Regions from separate parts of the Homo sapiens genome. Here region 1 is linked to region 2. A link means that fine-mapping ties the variant in region 2 to the expression of a gene that starts in the linked region. Tissue or cell type: lung. Region 2 holds a variant in brackets; the other region holds the start of a gene. All regions are shown on one strand. Distances are between the middles of the regions.

Region 1 (10,243 bases), 45 kb after region 2:
TTCCCTCAGATCTGCCTCAGCTGCCACTTGCCTCCTTCACGATAATGCAACCTGACCCTCACCCTAACCACTAGGACCCATCCCGAATGCTGTCCAGGCCACACCTGAGTGCACCCACCTAGTCCACTCTCCACTGGGTGAACAATGATCTTTAATGGGTGGATCTGATGAGGGATGTCCCCGGGGAAAACTTGACAATGGCCTTGGTGACTCTGGACTTGGGTGATCCTCCGTACTCTATTCAGATCCTCTGTTCTGTCCTCAGCCTGCCTGCCACACTCCCCACCTCTCACGTTTAACACACTCTATGAGCAGGCTGAGGACACAACGTCTGGGTTAGTGCAGCTTCCTAGAATCCACGTTACTCATTCATTCATTCATGGAAGGCATGTAGGCGCCTGGCGACCGCATATGCAAGGAGCCGTGGAGTATCGGGAACATGGCACGGCCCTTCCTTTCCTTAGCACAGTTTCCATTCACAGGAGCTGAGGCACAGCCATCATTAACCCCAAAGTCCATGAACTTGCAAAGAGTCTGGAGGGGCTGCCCAGGCAGAGGTGACAAATGCCATCGGTGGCAGGGACAGTAGTGGACATAGAGGAAAGAGTGCACACAGACAGAATCCCAGACAGACAGGAATCCAGTGTAATGGGGGAGGGGAGTAAAAACAAGAGAGGTACTGCTGAATTAATATTGTAATATGATTACAAAATGTAGGAGAGTTGAAATAATATAGATCCATTCATCACCATTCACTCTTTCTGCTGTGCAGGACGAGGCTGTGCCGTCCGTGGGCCTCTCTGATTGAGGGAGAATGGGCGTGTGGCCAGAGATGCACAGCTGTGTTGGGCCACAGAAATGGGCTCATGGGGGTGTCCATGGGCATGGTTAAGAGAGAGAAGGAAAACAAGAAGAAGGGAGGTCAGGGGTTTGGCTTATTTCAGTTCTTGTCCCATTGAATTCTAGGGACCCTGCCTCCTCCCGGACATGAGCCATTGGCGGGGTTTCCCTGTCTTGTGACTCACCCACCTGTGATTCAGGCTCCTTGCTTTACACCAAGTTTGAGCATAAAACCTGCTAATATTTCTCGTCAAAAATTAACCCGAGTAACCTCTTCTTTCCTCTCTGAGTCACCCACATCCTTAAAACTGCCCAGGATAATCACAGTTCCTGCATAGGTTGTTGTGTGAACTGAAAGTGTTAATATGTATGGAAAGTGCTTAAAACACAGAACTTTAAACACATGCTCTGATTAGTACGATCATTACCCTCAATGTTGATTTTAAGCAAACCATATTATCCTGGCCAAACTACCATGACCTGGAGCCTTGGGACTGCACAGCCTCCCTCTGTCAGTCAAATATGGAGGGATGACATCTCTGGAGCCAGCACAGCCACTCTGGAGGTGGGGGAGGTGACAGTGGTGGGACCTCATGCTTCCTGATAGTTATTTAGGTCCCTGCTGTCACCTGCTCCACCAGACTGTGGGCTCCAGGGAGTAGTCAGTATTCACACAGGGCTCATTTGTCCTTCCCCAACCCAGGCACAGATTTTCCCAGAGTAAAGGGTTCCTCCTCTACCTGATGAATGAATCACTCCTGTCCCCGCCGCCAAGCACATGCAGTGAGACTAGCTGTGGCCTCAGCTCACTGCGTAAGGACAGCCTCCAGCTACAGCAGGGGCAGAGGACCCTGTAGAGCTCTGTAGTCTCTGTTGAGAACCACAGGCAGGAACTCCCAGAGGCCAAGTGCAGGGCAGAGACTGGGAGAAGCAGCTGCCTGGAGGACTCTGGATCCTTGCAGAAGACATGTCCAGTGTCTGCTGAGACTGACTCTAGGTGCCTGAGAAGAAGCCACCCAGGGAAGGAGAGACTAGATTGTGGACCACTCAGGGCTGGGAGATCTGCATGTTCCCCTTCCCACAGTGGACAGAACGCATGCCAGGGTGCTGGCGAGTTACCATCAGAAGTCAACCACTATAACTTTAGTAGTTAACTAAATGAGCCCCTGAATAAGGCAACTGAACACAAGGTATATAGTTATATGTAGATAAAAGCTAGTATCAGAGGAGCAAACTGATCCTCAGTTTTCTGTGACCAGAATAATGCCCAATAGACTTTGAAAGAACACAGTGATGTTCGGTACCCAAGAAAGCAAAATTCACAATGTCAAGCAATAAGAAATTACTATGCATGAAAAAAAAAGTCCCTATGGGCAGGAAAAAAAATGTAATCAACAGAAACAGTGGCCGTAATAACAGATATAATGGTGTTGATAGATTAAATAACTTAAAACAGGTCATCTAAAGCTTACAAATATACTCAAGAATATTTAAAAAACAGAAAAACAAAAAACACCACCACCAAAATCATAGGTTGCGCACGGTGGCTCAGGCCTGTAATCCCAATACTTTGGGAGGACAAGGTGGGAGGATTCCTTGAGCGCAGGAGTTTGAGACCAGCCTGGGCAACATGGTGAAACCCCGTCTCTACTAAAAATACAAAAATTAGCCAGGTGTGGTTGCAAGTGCCTGTGGTCCCAGCTACTTGGGAGGCCGAGGTGGGAGGATCACTTGAGCCCAAGAGGTTGAGGCTGCAGTGAACTCTGACTGTGCCACTGCACTCCAGCCTGGGTGACAGAGTAAGACCCTGTCTCAAAAAAGAAAAACACAAAGATGACCAGGAAATAGATGGAAGATATTAAAAATGCCAAAAGAGAACTTCTAAAGTTCAAAAAATATATATCTGATATACAGTAGATGAGATTAACAGCAGGTTAGATTCTGCAGAAGCAGATCAATGAACTTGAAGAGCCCTCACAGGGAAATGTCCAAAGTGAAACATAGAAAATGATGGGGGAAAAAAAAGAACAGATACTAAGTTAGCTCTGATACAAAATCTAACATTCTAACGTAAATATAATAAGATCTCAGTCACCAGAAGAGACAGAGTATTTGAAGAAATAATGGCTGAAAATCTTCCAAGTAGAACATAAACTCGGCTGGGCGTGGTGGCTCACCCCTGTAATCCCAGCATTTTGGGAGGCTGAGGCGGGCAGATCACGAGCCAGACCATCCTGGCTAACACGGTGAAACCCCGTCTCTACTAAAAATACAAAAAGTTCGCTGGGCGTGGTGGTGCATGCCTGTAGTCCCAGCTACACGGGATGCTGAGGCAGGAGAATGGCGTGAACCCAGGAGGCAGAGGTTGCAGTGAGCTGAGATCCCACCACTGCACTCCAGCCTAGGCGACAGAGGCAAGACTCCATCTCAAAACAAACAAACAAACAAACAAAAACATAAACTCTAAAACCCCAAATCCAAGAAATTCAACATAACTCTGTTGTGGCTTTCTTTCTTTCTTTTTTTTGAGTTGGAGTCTTGCTCTTGTCTCCCAGGCTGGAGTGCAGTGGCGCCATCTCTGCTCACTGCAACTTCTGCCTCCCAGGTTCAAGTGATTCTCCTGCCTCAACCTCCCAAGTAGCTGGGATTGCAGGTGCCCACCACCACACCCAGCTAATTTTGTATTTTTAGTAGAGACGGGGTTTCACCATGTTGGTCAGGCTGGTCTCGAATCCCTGACCTCATGTGATCTGCCCGCCTCGGCCTCCCAAAGTGCTGGGATTACAGGCATGAGCTACCAGACCCGGCTGTTGTGGCTTTCTTTACAGAAAAGTCTCCAAGGAGAACATAAACTCTAAAACCCCAAATCCAAGAAATTCAACACAACCCAGTTGTGGCTTTCTTTACAGAAAAATCTTCCAAGTAGAAAGAACATGAAAGTCTAAAGCCAAAAATCCAAAAAATTCTTTATAGAGATAAAAAAAAAACCCCACAACAGAGCAAACAAACCAAATCACTGCAAACCAGTGCTAAGAAAAATCTTTAAAAGCAGCCAGAGACCAAAGATCCACCACCCAAAGAGAGGCAAGATGCCCTGGGGACCTAGGCCCACAGAAACCACAGCAGGAGGGGGAGGCAGAGGCCCCTGTACACTCTCCTCACTAGGACAGTTAGGTCCTCCCTCCACTCAGAGGTGAGACCAAGGACATACTGTGGTGTGGGGCGGAAACAGTGAAAACATGAGGTGTGTAACAATATCCCATGAAACTCCAATGCTTCACACTGACATTCTTCTAGGTCAACACCAGCATTCTCTTGACCTTCCTTTCACTGTTCCTCCTCTCCCTTCCAGCCCCTCTGTACAGTCTTGAGTTAGGTCTAGGCCCACACACTTCCCCACTCTGAGCTGCGGTCTCTTCCTCTGTAAAATGTGATGATTCAGAACCTCTCCTGGCCCCAAGCGCAGTTCCAGGCGCTGAGCACACCATGCTGTTCCCTACAAAGCCGACTCTTTGTCCCTTCCCCATTATCACGGATACTTGCCAAGAGGTGGCAAGAAAGGCTCTTCCCAGGCCAAAATGCAGCTGCTATTATCAAGCAGGTCAGGCCCCAAGTGCCACAACTCCCTTCTCCTAAATCTCGTTTTCCCAAGGAACCCCAAACAATGGCATTGGCGATGAGCGGCCCCGCACGCGTAGGGGCGCAGCCGCTAAGGAGGGGAAGGGGCCTCTCCAGCTGCGCCCGCGACGACTCCCGCGCACGGAACGGAACCACTGGGCCGCAGCGACCACAGGGGAGTTCTTCGCCGGCCGCAGGTTCAAAGCGATCTGCAATGAGCGCCTTTAGGAATTCATTCGAAGGCGCAAAAGAAAAAGAAATTAAGGCAGGAACTGAGCGAGGAAGGAAGGGAGGGAAAGAAAGGAAGAAAGAGAAAAAGAGAAAGAAACAGAAAGTAAGGAAAGAAAACAAAATCAAAGTCCGACGACCTCTCCGTGGCTTCACGCAGCTTACTCGGGAATTCCCTCCTTGTCGCCCTCCCCCACTGGATTCGGGAATTTACACCAAGTGGAGCGCGCGCTCTGTTCCCTGGCGGCCCAGGTCGCTCCTGCCCAACCCGGGGACCCATCTCTTCCCCCGACTCCGACGACTGGTGCGTCTTGCCCGGACATGCCCGGCCGCAGGCGACCCGGGCCACGCACCCCCGCCGTGTCCCCCTCTCTCCCTGCCCTCTCCAGGCGCCAGGCACGCTCTTCCCCAGCCAGGGACCGCGGCGGGGACTCACCAACAGCAGGACCGCGGCGACAACGAGCACAAGGGTCTTGGGGACCCGGGGCCCAGGCCTGGCTCCCCGCGCCTCCCTGGGTCCTGGGCCGTGCCTTTTCCGGGCCCCCGAAGCGGCCGGGGCGTTCTGTCCCCGTTGTTCCATGGCGGTAGGGAACGCTCTTATAGTCTCTCAGGCCCGTGGGTTTCAGCCCTTAAAGTAGATCGGGCATCGTCGGTGTATTTTGTGGGCGCAGAGATTGCGGGGTTCTCCGGCCGCGTGCTGATTTATGTGTCCAGGCTGACTTGGGGCGGCGCGGCTGTACTTTCACTGCCTCCGGGCAGGCGTCATTCGGGGCGGGGCGAATCAGATCCAATGTGCAACTGCAAATTCCACCACAGGTTGGTGACAATAAATAAGAGTCTCGTCAACGCAATCCTCCGCAAGCGCGTCCAAGTGGGGAGGGGAGGGGAAGGGACCGGAACTAACCTTCGCCCTGGCGGCTGCGCCCCGGGCTGTGGTTTGTTTCTGGGTCCTGTCCGCGCCAGGACAGGCACCGAAACTTGGGGGAAATGAGTTGAGGGAGGCACTTGGGGAGTTGACGCCTCCCGGGGTCGCGCGCTTGGCTGTGAACAGGGTCTTGAGGTTCAGAGTCCGCTTTCCAGGCGCGTCTTGATCTTCTCCCCTTCCCAGGGGCACCTGCCCCTTCTGTTCTCTCCTTCTCTCTTCTTTCCTTTTTTCTTTCGTTTTCTTTCGTTCTTTCGTCTTCTTTCCGTCCTTCCTGCTTTCTCTTTCCTTCCTTTCTCTCTTTCTCTTTCCTCCCTCCCTCCCCCTCCCCCTACCTCCCTTCCTTGTGGTTTATTTTTTGAGACAGTCTCTCTGTGGCTCAGATTGGTGAGCGGTGGTGTGATCCCGGCTCACTGCAACTTCCGTCTCCCAGGTTCAAGCGATACTCCCACCTCAGCCTCCCATGTAGCTGGGACTACAGGCCTGCACCACCACGCCTGGCTAATTTTTGTATTTTTAGTAGACACAGGGGTTCACTATGTTGGCCAAAAGACCATCGAACCCAGCTTACACTCACACCTAGTCCACAAATGTGCCTGTGTCCCTGCACCCTTGCTACACTTAGCTTTCATTTGTCACTAGTCTAGGAAATAAAACATGATACATCACATTGTTATGTATTTTCATTCCTTCATGGTACTGTGTCCGGAATTGGTGGGTTCTTGGTCTCACTGCCTTCAAGAATGAAGCCTCGGACCCTCGCGGTGAGTGTTACAGTTCTTAAAGGCGGCGTGTCTGGAGTTTGTTCCTTCTGATGTTCGGATGTGTTCGGAGTTTCTTCCTTCTGGTGGGTTCGTGGTCTCACTGGCTCAGGAGTGAAGCTGCAGACCTTCCCAGTGAGTGTTACAGCTCTTAAGGCAGTGGGTCTGGAGTTGTTCTTTCCTCCTGGTGGGCTCGTGGTCTCGCTGGCTTCAAGAGTGAAGCTGCAGACCTTCAAGGTGAGTGTTACAGCTCATAAAGGCAGTGTGGACCCAAAGAGTGAGCAGTAGCAAGATTTATTGCAGAGGGAAAGAAGGAAGCTTCCACAGTGTTACCACTGCTGGCTCTGGCAGCCTGCTTTTATTCTCTTATCTGGCCCCACCCACACCCTGCTGATTGGTAGAGCGGAGTGGTCTGTTTTGACAGGGCGCTGATTGGTGGTTTACAATCCCTGAGCTAGACACAAATGTTCTCCACTTCCCCACCAGATTAGCTAGATACAGAGTGTGGACACAAAGGTTCTCCAAGGCCCCACCAGACTAGCTAGATACAGAGTGTCAATTGGTGCATTCACAAACCCTGAGCTAGACACACGGTGCTGATTGGTGTGTTTACAAAACTTGAGCTAGATACACAGTGCCAATTGGTGTATTTACAATCCCTTAGCTAAACATAAAGGTTCTCCACGTCCCCACCAGACTCAGGAGCCCAGGTGTCGTCACCCAGTGGATCCCGCACCGGGGTTGCAGGTGGAGCTGCCTGCCAGTCCCGCGCCGTGCTCCCGCGCCGTGCGCCCGCACTCCTCAGCCCTTGGGTGGTCGATGGGACTGGGCGCCCTGGAGCAGGGGGAGGTGCTCGTCGGGGAGGCTCCGGCTGCACAGGAGCCCACGGAGGGGGTGAGAGGCTCAGGCATGGCGGTCCCGAGCCCTGCCCGTCGGGAAGGCAGCTAAGGCCCGGCGAGAAATCAAGCGCAGCGCCAGTGGGCCGGCACTGCTGGGGGACCCAGTACACCCTCCGCAGCCGCTGGCCCGGGTGCTAAACCCCTCATTGCCCGGGGCCGGCAGGGCCGGCCGGCTGCTCCGAGTGCAGGGCCCGCCGAGCCCACGCCCACCCGGAACTCCAGCTGGCCCGCAAGTGCCGCGCGCGCAGCCCCGGTTCCCGCTCGCGCCTCTCCCTCCACACCTCCGTGCAAGCTGAGGGAGCGGGCTCCAGCCTTGGCCAGCCCAGAAAAGGGCTCCCACAGTGCAGCGGTGGGCTGAAGGGCTCCTCAAGTGCCGCCAAAGTGGGAGCCCAGGCAGAGGAGGCGCCGAGAGCGAGCGAGGGCTGTTGAGGACTGCCAGCAAGCTGTCACCTCTCAGTACTACGGATTTTCAAGAATACAGGAGTTTTTGGTACTGGGAGTAGATGACTGGGGGGATCCAGGCAAGACTACAGGGGAGGGCGGCAGAGAAGACTTAATTCCCAGCTGTGTACTTGGAAAACCGTGCTCAGCTGGGGCCAGTCCCTGCCAACCGCCATGCCTGTTAATGGAAATAAGGTCTCCATCCTCAGGCTGTCAGGGTGACTTCAGATGAGCCTGGAGCTGAGCTCAGTTCCGGACCCCAGGTCCTGGCTCTGTCAATGCCGGACTGGTCCAATCTCTATGCCAGGTCCTTCCAACCCCATCCCTCTCTTTATCAAAGTAGGAATCAAGAAGATCCGAAGGCTCAGGCTCTCAGGTTGTTAGAGAGTACTGAAATTGGAGGCTGTGGATGGCTGGGCCCTGCCGTGCTCCCGGTCCAGCTCTGACTCTGGTATGGCCCCAGCTCCTTCCTGTAAAATGAGGGGATAAAAATCTTCAGCAGCCCTGTGTAAACTTCTGCAGGCTCTGTTAACAGGTCTAGGAGGACAAATTGCAGGGCTGGTGTCAGTCACTCTAGACTCTGGATCCCCAGGGCACATGTCCTCCACTCAGCAGAGGCTGCACCTTCTCCTACCTGTACCTCAGTACCAGCTCCCTGAGCTTGAGGCAGAAATTTCTGAAGACTGGGGTGGAGCGCCATGCGGAGGGGCCGTAGAGGAACAGACGAGCCAGAATTCAAATGAGGACGGTGATGGCACTGCAGGGCCACAGCCTGGTTTACCTGCCACTCTTCCAATTGTCTTTCTGTTGGGCACCCAGCCGGTGCCCCAGTTTGAAGAGTGAGCAGGAAAGGTCTCAATCCGTGTGGCCACAGATGGCTGTTCACAGCCTCTACTGAGAGACCACAGTCCCAGTTCCGGTTCTCTGTCCTGCATCCAGAAGTGGCAGGGCAGCGAGGCTCTAGCTTCCAGGTTGGGGATGGGGACAGTGGAGACAGTGCCATGCCCTGAGCCTGTGCTGTTGGGCAGCTGGTGTCCTGCTCCCAGCCAGAGACTGCACATCTTCATGTAGTGGATTTTCCTAACAACCTGGGGACATGAGAGTAGGTTGTTTTCCCTGTTTTACAAGTGGCAAAACTGAGATTCAGGAGCAGTGTCTCCAGCATTTTTGGCCTCACCTTCTGTATAATAGCAGCCATATTTGCACCTCTACAGGGCTAGAGTTCTCTGAGCAGCTGCTTCTCTATTCTCTGTCCTGCACTTGGCCTCTGGGAGCTCGTATGGTTCCTCAGCAGAGTCCACAGGGCCCTCCCTGTGCTACAGCCTGGAGCCTGTCAGGCGGTGAGCTGAAGCCACGACTGCACTCACCTCATGGGTTTGCGGGGAGAATGATTCACCCAGGAAGCAGACAGTGAGCCCTTTACTCTGGGAACACCTGTGCCTGGAGTCTGCTGAAGGCAGGGAGGACAAATGAACCCCATGTGAATCCTACTCCCTGGAGCCTACAGTGTGGTGGGAGAGGTGACACCAGGGGTCATATAACTAATAGGAGGTAGCATGAGGGAGGCCTGAGATCTCACCACCCTTGCCTCCCCCTCCTCCAGAGAGGCTGTGCTGGAGGGAGGCCATGCCATTGCAAGGCCATAGGATGTGGTATTGTTTGCCTGGAAGATGTGGTTTGATTACAGCCACCATTGAGGGTCATGGAGGCAAGCTAAGCTCCCTTTAAGGGTATTTTTTTTTTGGCTGGGCCTGAGAATTAAGTTGACATAAGACAGGTCCACAGGAGAAAAGCACACAAATTAATACAATGCAAGTTTTACATGGCACAGAAAAAGCAGTGAGAGTCAGTTACTTATATACTGAATTAGACCAAGTAACTTGGGAAGAAGCAAGTAAATATGTGGAGGCTAAAAAGATGAGTTATTCTATTCTTTTTTTTTTAATATCTGCTCCTTTAAGGAATAAAAAAGACAAGCTTACCTTTTAAAATATATTTTACATATGTATACAATCTAAATTTATTTTTCTCTCTTTATCCCTGAATACTTTATTATTTTTTTTTTAATTTTTTGGAGACAGAGTCTTGCTGTGTCGCCCAGTCTGGAGTGCAGTGGCATGATCTTAGCTCACTGCAAGCTCCGCCTCCTGGGTTCACGCCATTCTCCTGCCTCAGCCTCCCAAGTAGCTGGGACTACAGGTGCCCGCCACCACACCCGGCTAAATTTTGTATTTTTAGTAGAGACAGGGTTTCACCATGTTAGCCAGGCTGGTCTCTATCTCCTGACCTTGTGATCCACCTGCCTCGGCCTCCCAAAGTGCTGGGATTACAGGCGTGAGCCACCACGCCCGGCCTACTTTATTATTTTATTTTTACTTTAAGTTCTGAAATACATGCGCAGAATGTGCAAGTTCGTTACACAAGTATACTTTTGCCAGCGATGCACCTGCTGTTTTTCAATAGCCTTTAATTCATAATAGTCAATGGGCCAGGGTAGGCAGGGTGCAATGGCTCACACCTGTAGTCCTGCCAAG
Region 2 (9,571 bases):
GCGGCTGGAGGACAAGCGGCTCTAACCCTGGGGGCGGCCATGTTGTCCAGGCCCAGGCCCCTCCAGGACTGTGGCTGCCTCCCCTCCACGGCCTCCAGGGCGGCTGGCTGGAAAGCCACGCGTATGCTGCCCTCTACAGGCTGCTCGGCCTCCCTGCAGCTCAGCGCAGCCCAGGGCTCCAAGTGAGGCCCAGAAGCCCATGGGCAGGGCTGGGGGGACGAAGGGGGAACCCGGAGCACCTCCACTTCTAGGGAAGATGGACAGCGTGGGGGCACACCTGGGCCTCCCGGAAGCTGTGGACGAAAGGGAGAGCGGGTCCTCCAGGGCAAGGGGAACGGGAAATAGGTCTCCTAGGTGCCTGAAGCGCTGAGCAACCTGGGTACCCTGGTGGGGATGCAGGGAAGGCCGGGGCAGAGAAAGTGAAGGTCGACCCAGGGCTGTAGGAAGCCATAGGAGAGTGACCACGGGATTCCCTGAGAAACAGGGCCGGCCCCCCAACTTCAGGGACCCACCGCCCATTCCCCGAGAGCTGTCGGAACCAGATGCAACCCGGCAGCCCAGAGAACTCTCCTGGGAGGCTGTGGGTGAGCCAGGCCAACATTGGTGTCCCTGTCCCCAGAGGGAGGAGCAGGCAGGAGAGAGAGGGGAAGGAGGTATGAATCCCAGTCCCCAGGAACCTAGCTCTTTAAACTCTGGGGAGTCGGATTCAGGAAACACCCCCAGGAGGCCAAGCCTGAAAACAGAGGGGAGGGAGGAAGGAAGGAGTCCCAGCAGGAGCACAGCCCTGGTTTCCTGTCACTCAGAGCTGATTCACAGGAGGAGGGGAGGTTGGGGGGCGGGAGACAAAAACCACACCTCTTTTTATATAAGGTTTCATATTTAATTTGGTCATGGATTCATAAATACATAAGTATTTTGTACACAATGTGCTTCCTTGTTTGTATTATAACACATTTCAAATAGGGACCTTTGACAGGGCAGAAGCATGAAAGGACACCAACCACGAGTGACACACTATACTATGGCTGTCCTGTGTCACATGCTATTTGGCCTGGGGATATAGCAAAGCCTAATGTAACTAAACAACAAAACCCCCAATTATTTCATGTCGTCAGGAAGCTTACTTTAAAAGAATAGCTTGGCCTGGCTGGTGGCTCACGCCTGTAATCCCAGCACTTTCGGAGGCCAAGGTGGATCACCTGAGGTCAGGAGTTCGAGACCAGCCTGACCAACATGGTGAAACCCCGTCTCTACTAAAAATACAAAAATTAGCCAGGCGTGGTGGCGGGTGCCTGCAATCCCAGCTACTCCGGAGGCTGAGGCACGAGAATCGCTTGAACCCAGGAGGCGGAGGTTGCACTGAGCCAAGATCGTACCGTTGCACTCCAGCCTGGGCGAGAGAGTGAGATTCTGTCTCAAAAAAATTAAAAATAAAAGAAAAATCTTAAACACTGATAAGGCTGACACTCTAGATGCATCTTCTAGGAAGGCCTCTGTGGAAGGGACAAGGGACCTGGGACCGGACTGGCACCTTCTGAGCCCTGAGGCTGAGCGTCCTGCACAGAAGGCCCAGCAAAGGCAAAGACCAGGAGGCAGCAGCACCCTGTGCCTTCCAGAAGTGCAGGGGACAACGCGTGGGATGCCAGATGGAAGTGGGAGAGGATGGAAGTGCAAAGACCAGAAAGGTCACCCCCCACTCCTAAAACTCCACAGACACAACAGTCTGAATGTGTGATCTTCAGGCAATTCTAACTTTGTCCCACCCAAACCAGTCCCGGAACAAAACACACAATGCCTTGAGACAGAAAAGACCAAAAACTCCTGGAATGACTACCTGCATAAATGATCCTTCCATGACTGAAATACTATGGAGAAGGGTTTGCTGGAAAGAGGCTGAAATGGTTACTGAGGTCTTAAAACAATAATAGAACAGGACACAAGAAGAAAACCTTAATGCGTCAGCCATTCTAGGTCCTGTTGCCACAGTGTTTAAGAATTGACATTTCTGAGATGAGTCAGATGCTTACAGAGCGGCCAAGGTCCTCAAGTAGGCAATCTGTACCCTAAAAGGCAGCTCATGGGCTCAGGGTGACAGATAACCAGAAGTGAGCCGGGCCATCTACTCCTGAGATGGCAACCATTTCACACCATTCTCAAGCACCATCTACTCTTCCCCCTTGATGCCATGGCAGACGTGGGAGACAGATTTTGTCTTCTATCTCCTGAGCCCAAACAGGGCTCAAGTTCACTTGGGATATGACATAGACCCTATTGTTATGTGTGATCTAACCCATCTGCCTCTGTCCCAGCCTGTCCATAGATGGGGGCTATGGGTGCAAATGAGACTGCCCAGGTAGGGACCAGCCACACACAGGACTTCACGTGGATCCAGTTCTCTTTGGTCCCGACTCATATGTAAACAACTACCTATAAATAATACTCATATACTTGTAAGGTTGTCCAGTTCAAAAGACTGGCCCCTGTAGAAGTTGCCAATCATTGAAGCCAAAGTACATCTGAGGGAGGGCTGGAACCCAGACAGTGACATCTTACAGGGGACTTCTTCTTCTTCCCCCATTGTATGTCTCCTCCTTTTATGTTTATCTAATCTATTCACATAACTATGTAAACAAGTACATTTACTAAAGTTTCTTCATGTTCATAAAATAATAACATACAGAATTATAAAAGTAGAAAGGTAAGGCCAAGCATGGGGGCTCACGCCTCTAATTCCACCGCTTTGGGAGTCTGAGGTGGGCAGACTGCTTGAGTCCAGGAATTCGAGACCACCCTGAGCAACATAGAGAGCCCCTATATCTAGACAAAATACAAAAAATTAGCCGGGCGTGGTGGTGCACACCTGTGGTCCCAGCTATTTGGATGGCTGAGGTGGGAGAATCGCTTGAGCCTGAGAGGTCAAGGCTATAGTGAGCCAAGATTGCACCA[T/C]TGCACTCCAGCCTGGGAGACAGAGTGAACTGCCCCGCACCCCCCACCCAAAAAAGGTTCATATCATATAGTATCAAGTGAAGTCGGACAACGACTGTGTAGATGGATCTTACAATGTAGCCCAAATAAATAAATAAAGCATTTACATTAGGATAAAAAAGTGCTGTGAAAACAATGACATCCCAAACCAAATCTCAAAGTACGCACAAACGGAATGATCCAGACATTTCCATAGTGTCCTTATTATCACATTCAGCTTATAAAAATAATGCCAAGTGCAGTGAAAAGTTACAGGATGTTCCATCCACTGGGTGATGTTGGATGGGAGAGTTTCTTCCAGTACCGGTCATGTGACAATTGTGGCACTTTCCTACTGACTGGAGTCCAGTTGGGCTTTTTCCAGAAAAAAGGTAAACCAGGGAAGGTCTGACTTCCTGAAGAGAATCACACTTAGGACATGGCAGAGTCTGCATTACCTTCTAGATACATGAACTTTCCAGAGCTCAACAAGTGGTCCTCAATCTTCTGCTTGGCAAGTCTCTCTCCCAGCGTCTCCAAGGCATCCAGCAGGGTGTGGACAGAGGCATCTCGCCCGGTTTTGTTGACCCACTTTATCAGCATCGTGTACAAGGTGTCCCTGTGGCCCGCTGCCTCAGCTTTAGCCACCTTTATCTCATTGTCCATGAGGCCCAACTTCCTCATGAGCGGCTCCCAGGAGTCAAAGGGCACCAAGTCTGCAAAGTCATCGAAGCACTGTCTCAGAGCTGGTGGAGAAAGCCACAGAGACAGCCAGGTGAGTTGGGACTCAGAAAGGGCAGAGGATTCCACATCAGGCCCAGAACCCAAGGCGGGGAACCTGGAGAGCCCCGTGTGCGGGCAAACCTGCCGCTCCAGTGCCCACCCGCTTCCCATCCACAGAGAGCGCGCCCACACTGCCTGGCCTCCCCCACACGCAAGGCACTGCGGGGAGTCAAAGTCGTCAGAGAATCAGCCCTCATACAGGGCTGAGAACCCACCAGGGGAGTATGGATGGACGTTACAGAGGCAGAAAGTAAAGTGCGTGAGAGTCCGAGGGAGGGAGAGACAGTGGCTGCAGCGGGAGCTTAGAGGAGGGAGGAGGCTGCCTGGGCTGCGCTTGTCATGGGAGCAGGTCCCAGGGCGGCCACTTCTGCATCTGTGGAAAGCACAGGGCCTGGGACAGGGGACCTCTGTTTTCACCCAGCTCGGCCTCACTTCCTGGGGCTGGGGCAGAGCTAGGTGGAGGCAAACAGACTCTGAGCAAGAAGTGAACCCAAAGACCGAGCAATGCTGCCCAGATCTCGGGACGATGAGGGATTAAATGAGACGTGTGTGCAACATGATGCACCTCGCCGTCCTCAGAGATAGACAGGGTCAGGAACACGAGGCTATGTTTTCCAACAGCCTTATTTTAAAGAACATCAGAAACAAGTGACATTCATTTTAATGTATGGTACTGAATATATTTAAAATATAATTTAATATACAATCAATATACAAAAATTATGAGTGAAATATTTTCCACTCTTTTTTGCATTAAGTCTTTGGCATTCGTATGTAGTTTACACAACAGCTCTGCAAATTGGGCTGAGGCACAGGTCAAGAGCTCCTTAGCCCACTGGGGTTAGTGGTGCTGTGCAGGACAGGCCAGCCCCTCAGGAGGTCCTCAGGGGCAGGCGGGGGCTACATCAGGCCCTGAACAAAGGAGGAGAGAGGATGAGGGGACGGACAGAGTCATTAGGGTCAATGATAGGGTGCAGAGAGGATGAGGTAGAGTGGGGAGAAGAGATGGGAGAAGACAGTTTAGGGTCCAGATGGTCTATAGCACAGGACCCACGGCTTCCAGCATGGAATACTCTGGAAGAGCCCTCTGACCTCTGGGGACAGCAGTTAGGACCCTGTCCCTATTCCCTCCATTCCTGCTGCATCTCCAGGAGCAAAACACTTACTCTCAGTGGGATCACCTTCATTTGCTGGAACCAGCAGCCTCCTCCTCTGAGACCTTTCAGCTTCTGCCGGTTCCTGTAACACATAGTGGGGAATGTCCTGGTCAGAGCCAGGAGTCCTACAGTCCAGTACTGACCCCGACCACCAGCCAGCTCTGAGACCTGCAGCACGTCACTTCCAGAACATTGTTCTGAAAGGTCTGGCAACAAGACAGGAGACAAAGGGGCAAGACTCTCGGAAGGAGGCCGATACAGCAGTCAATATTTTAGATTAGGAGTGTATATTTTTAAAACCCCAAGGTTTAATTTGTAATACTCAAAAGTGAATATGTCTTGATGATTTTTTTTTTTTTCGAGACAGAGTCTCACTCCGTCTCCCAGGCTGGAGTGCAATAGTGCGATCTTGGCTCACTGCAACCTCCACCTCTGGGTTCAAGAGATTCTCCTGCCTCAGCCTCCCAAGTAGCTGGGATTACAGGTGTGCACCACCATGCCCAGCTAATTATTTTATCGTATTTTTATATTTTTAGTAGAGACAGGGTTTCACCATGTTGGCCAGGCTAGTCTCAAACTCCTTACCTCAGATGATCCATCCGCCTCGGCCTCCCAAAGTGCTGGGATTACAGGCGTGAGCCACTGCACCTAGCCCTGATGAATGTTAAACCACATAGCAGAGGCCAGGCATGGTGGCTCACACCTGTAATCCCAGCACTCTGGGAGGCTGAGGTGTGAAGACTGCTTGAGCCCAGGAGTTTGAGACCAGCCTAGGCGACATAGCGAGATCCTGTTTCTAAAAATAAAATAAAATAAAATAAAATAAGCTGGGTGTAGTGGCACAAAACTGTCGTCCGAGCTACTCAGAAGCCGGTAAGTCCGAGCTTACTTGGCCTTAGAAGGTCAAGGCTGCAGTGAGCCATGATTGTACCACTGCACTCCAGCCTGGGTGACAAGAGTGAGACCCATCTCAGAAAGAAAGAAAAGAAAAGTAGCAGCAGACATAATAAATTAGAAAATGGACTTACAAGAAGACCCAAAATGCAAAGAAACAGCTTTGATGAGGAATAGGAAAAATTTATCTGAAATAAACTCCCAAATCTCGATTGAGTCATAATAGAACACTTGACTTGAAATATTATCTTCTTTGATAATAAAATTGAATGTTGAAAGGATGTCAATCATTCCTAGAACCATGTATTAATTTAAATTAATATTTGTAAAGTCTAGTGACTATGTGGGCGGGAGGGGTACTAGAGAAAATCTTATAATTCTAAATTTTATCTAATTCTAAATTATAAGATGTGTAAAAATAATTTTGAAAACATATTTGCTGTCTAAGATATTAAAACATATTAGACAGTTTTGTTTGGTGTTGTACATGATATAATCCTTTTCATGTCAATACCACATAAATACATATGCATTTATGTACCTAGATGGTATATGCATAAAGAGTTTAGCAAAGAATCACAAGAAATTATCCACTGTAGTTACCTGAAATAAGAAGGGCCAAAAGGCTGGGAAAGAGTAAAGAAGGCTCTTGGTATGATCAAGTTTTTTCATACTCTGGTGGATGTGTGGCTATGGGTGACCTGCTTTCAAAAAATGATCAGGCCAGGCATGGTGGCTCATGCTTGTAATCCCAGCATTTTGGGAGGCCAAGGAGGGTGGATTGCCTGAGTTCAGGAGTTCGAGACCAGCCTAGGCAACATGACCAAACCTCGTCTCTACAAAAAATACAAAACTTAGCTGGGCACGGTGGCACATGCCTATAGTTCCAGCTACTCAGGAAGCTGAGGTGAGAGGATGACATGAGCCCAGGAGGCAGGGGTTGCAATGAGCCAAGATGGTGCCACTGCACTCCAGCCCAGGTGATAGAGCAAGATCCTGTCTCAAAAAAAAAAATCTTCAAAGTCATTAATAAGCATGGAGGAAGTATTGGCATTGTTCATTTGTTTCCTTTTAAAATCTCTTCTCTTTATTTAAAAAGAAAGTGGTACAGATGCAAGGAAGAAACAGAAACAGTCTAGGTGGAAGAGATCTCTGCCCATATAAACATTTGACATTTTCAAGGATAAGATCTAGTTTTTTTTTGTTTGTTTGTTTTTTTAAAAAAGAGTGAAGAGGAAGAGAGAAAAAAGTAAACATTTGACATGTAGCAAAGGAGGTGGCAAAAGGGCAAAGGCAAGGGAAAAAGGAAGAATTGGTTGCTAAATGGGCTTGGAAGAAGGAAACAGAGACTCAGAATAATTCAGGGAGTTTCTCAGCTTATATTGAATCGAAAATTCAATTCTGTTTAGATTATATTGCTGTATGTTAAAAATCAAATCATTAAAAATAAAACACTGCAGGAAACTGGATAGTCTCATCTTATGTTCGAGGGAAGGACTTTCAGTGCTTACGAGCAATGAACAATAAATGTATATACAGATTTCCTGCCTACTCAATATCACATCAAAACTGATGGATTGATATGAACTGATTGTGTGCGTGTGTCCAATACAAAAGCCCTTTGTGCATCGACTTGGAATCCTACTTTTTGGAAGCTGCCCTACGAACTTTGAAATATGTTCAATGTAATAACAATTTCAGAGTAAATTTAAAACTCCTGCTGTTACAAGCAAGGGCTCACTGACTTCTGTTAGGAGCATACGATGGAGACTGTGCAGCCTTATTCACTCATCAATGAACCCTGTGACCCCCACTCTATGCCTGTGGAGCTCCAGGCTCGGGGGACACAGCAAGGACAGGACAGGGAGTAAGAAGCAGATGTCCTGCAGACTGGCACGGTCACCACCTCAGTGCAGCTGCTCCATCCCCTGCAGTCCCCTGGCTCCTTCAGGTTCCATTTCCCCTGGGCCAGGAGAGCTAAGGCACTGCCCTCTCCCACTGTCTACGAAATCCCAGGTGAGCAGCATGCCAGGAAACAAAATGATCTGTCCCCCACTCACCAGCAGATGCTCTGACTCCCCGGGGGACAACATGTTGACACCTGTTGGCTCTGCTGGCTCCTGGACTTCCATTTCCTGCTCAGGGACCTGGGTGGGCTGCAAGATACTCACGATCTCATTGAGGACATTGTCCTCAGCCCCAGGTCGTTGTGAGCTCTGGAAAAAGACATTGGGAAGGCAAAAAGCCGACTCAGGAGTCCACACCTAGGGCTCGCTGCAGGGTCCTCAGTATGCAGCTGCACCTGACATCCCCACCCCCTCTCAGTGAGGTCACCGCAGGCAGCCCAGACTCAGCACATCCAGGACCCGCTGCTGGGGCCAGGCCCCCAGTGCTGTGCTCAGGCAGACACCCCATCCCTAGGGTGCAGGCTGTGGGGTGAGGATGTCACCTGGGCTGCAGCAGGGCTCACCAGCCTATGTGGTGCTCAAAATGGCCATGTGTCCCCCACAGTCAGCCCAGAGCACCCAGGCCACTTCAGAGAGTCAGGGCAGCCATGAGGACAATGGGGACCCACCCACCCAGGTTCTGCTGTCCCAGGAAGCAGTTCCTGAACCCCTGAGCCCCCAGCTCCTGGAGAAATCAACTCACTCTGTCCACACGCTCAGGGTCCCCACCACCACCTAAAAAAGAAGCAGTCTCCTTAGCAGGAAGGGAGGGGCCCATGAAGCACCCCCCTCCCAGAGGACAGTGGGGCGCAGGGCTGGGCTGGGGGCTGGGACACTGGACAAGGAGCCCTGGGGCTGGGGACAGAATGGGGCCTTACAACTCAGAGACACCCTGAGGAAGGGGGATGAGAAGGGGAACTAGAGTAAAAACAAACACTTGGAAAATCTCTGGTTCTGCTCTGACCAAGGCTGAAAAAATCCCACGACCACTTCTCATCCTCACCCTTGTCACCCAGTTGAGGAGCCGACTGCCCCCTGCCTGGCTGGGCCTGAAGATGGGAGGAACTGGCCCTGCCCTCCTGGACTTGGCTGGGAGATATGGGGACCCCCAGACCTGGGAGAGGGACTGAAGAGACCAGGGTCCTGGGGGGTGCACGGGATGTGGGGATGGGGGTGACCACGAGGAGGAGGATAGAGCCAGGCTGGAGGCACTTAGACTTGGGGCAGGGGCAGGCGTTTCTGTCTGTGGGAATAGGGTGGGAGGGGGCAGGGCAGAGAGTGCCCTGTGCCCCCGCCCTCAGCCAGCACCTACCTGAGCAGATGCCTTTCAGGTAAGGAAGGACTTTCTTCCACAGTAAAGACTTGCAAACAAACACAGCCACAATCAAGACTACGGCTGCAACTGTGACTCCTATGATGATGCCTGAGAGAGAACAGGGAGAGGCAGGAGTCCCTGGGCTGGAGGTCACCGTCTCCTCCACAGCTGGGACTTCCCCACTGTGCTTTGTACCTGATTCTTTGTGGACACATTCGATGTCACTCCAGGGTGTACAATCACCGACCTTGACCATCCCTCTGGGACACCTGGGTACACACACAGAGGGAGAGGGGGGACTCTTGATGGAAAGCTGGCCAGGTGGGATGAAAGAGGAGCCACCCTCCCTCCCCAGTGTCCCTGAGAAGGTGTCAGGGGAAGGACAGTCTCCTCGTGTCAGCAGTGGGTCCCCCTGTGCTCCCTTCTTGAGGCTGGGGAAGGGTCTGAGCATGCGCACTTCAGCCCCTCGGCCTCCCTGCTCTGGGGTCAGAGCTGCAGTTCCAGGAGCCTTC

The links. PIP is the estimated chance that this variant, and not a neighbour inherited with it, causes the effect.
Region 1: it holds the start of TNFRSF10B, and the variant in region 2 is fine-mapped to the expression of TNFRSF10B in lung (TOPMed, PIP 0.99). The same link has a PIP of 0.9 or more in fibroblasts and whole blood.

What each region holds. Positions count from the first base shown.
Region 1 is chr8:23,063,629-23,073,871 of GRCh38, forward strand. It overlaps TNFRSF10B (TNF receptor superfamily member 10b), which reads right to left and starts at 5,403. Exons shown (of 9, transcript NM_003842.5): 1 at 5,123-5,403. The coding sequence starts at 5,266. It also overlaps the pseudogene TNFRSF10B-AS1. RefSeq lists enhancers at 4,787-5,046, 5,587-5,636, 5,657-5,826, 6,608-6,902, 7,224-7,723 and 1 more, promoters at 2,782-6,495, 5,263-5,933 and a cis regulatory region at 5,388-5,393.
Region 2 is chr8:23,019,275-23,028,845 of GRCh38, forward strand. It overlaps RHOBTB2 (Rho related BTB domain containing 2), which reads left to right. Exons shown (of 10, transcript NM_015178.3): 10 at 1-925. It overlaps TNFRSF10B (TNF receptor superfamily member 10b), which reads right to left. Exons shown (of 9, transcript NM_003842.5): 5 at 9,057-9,328; 6 at 8,448-8,479; 7 at 7,859-8,014; 8 at 4,914-4,986; 9 at 859-3,710. The coding sequence ends at 3,397. Among named protein-coding and RNA genes, the nearest start is that of RHOBTB2-AS1, 24 kb to the left of the region's middle. RefSeq lists enhancers at 1-265, 266-828, 624-783, 8,971-9,471, 9,472-9,571. The variant T/C (reference allele first, on the strand shown) is at 2,947.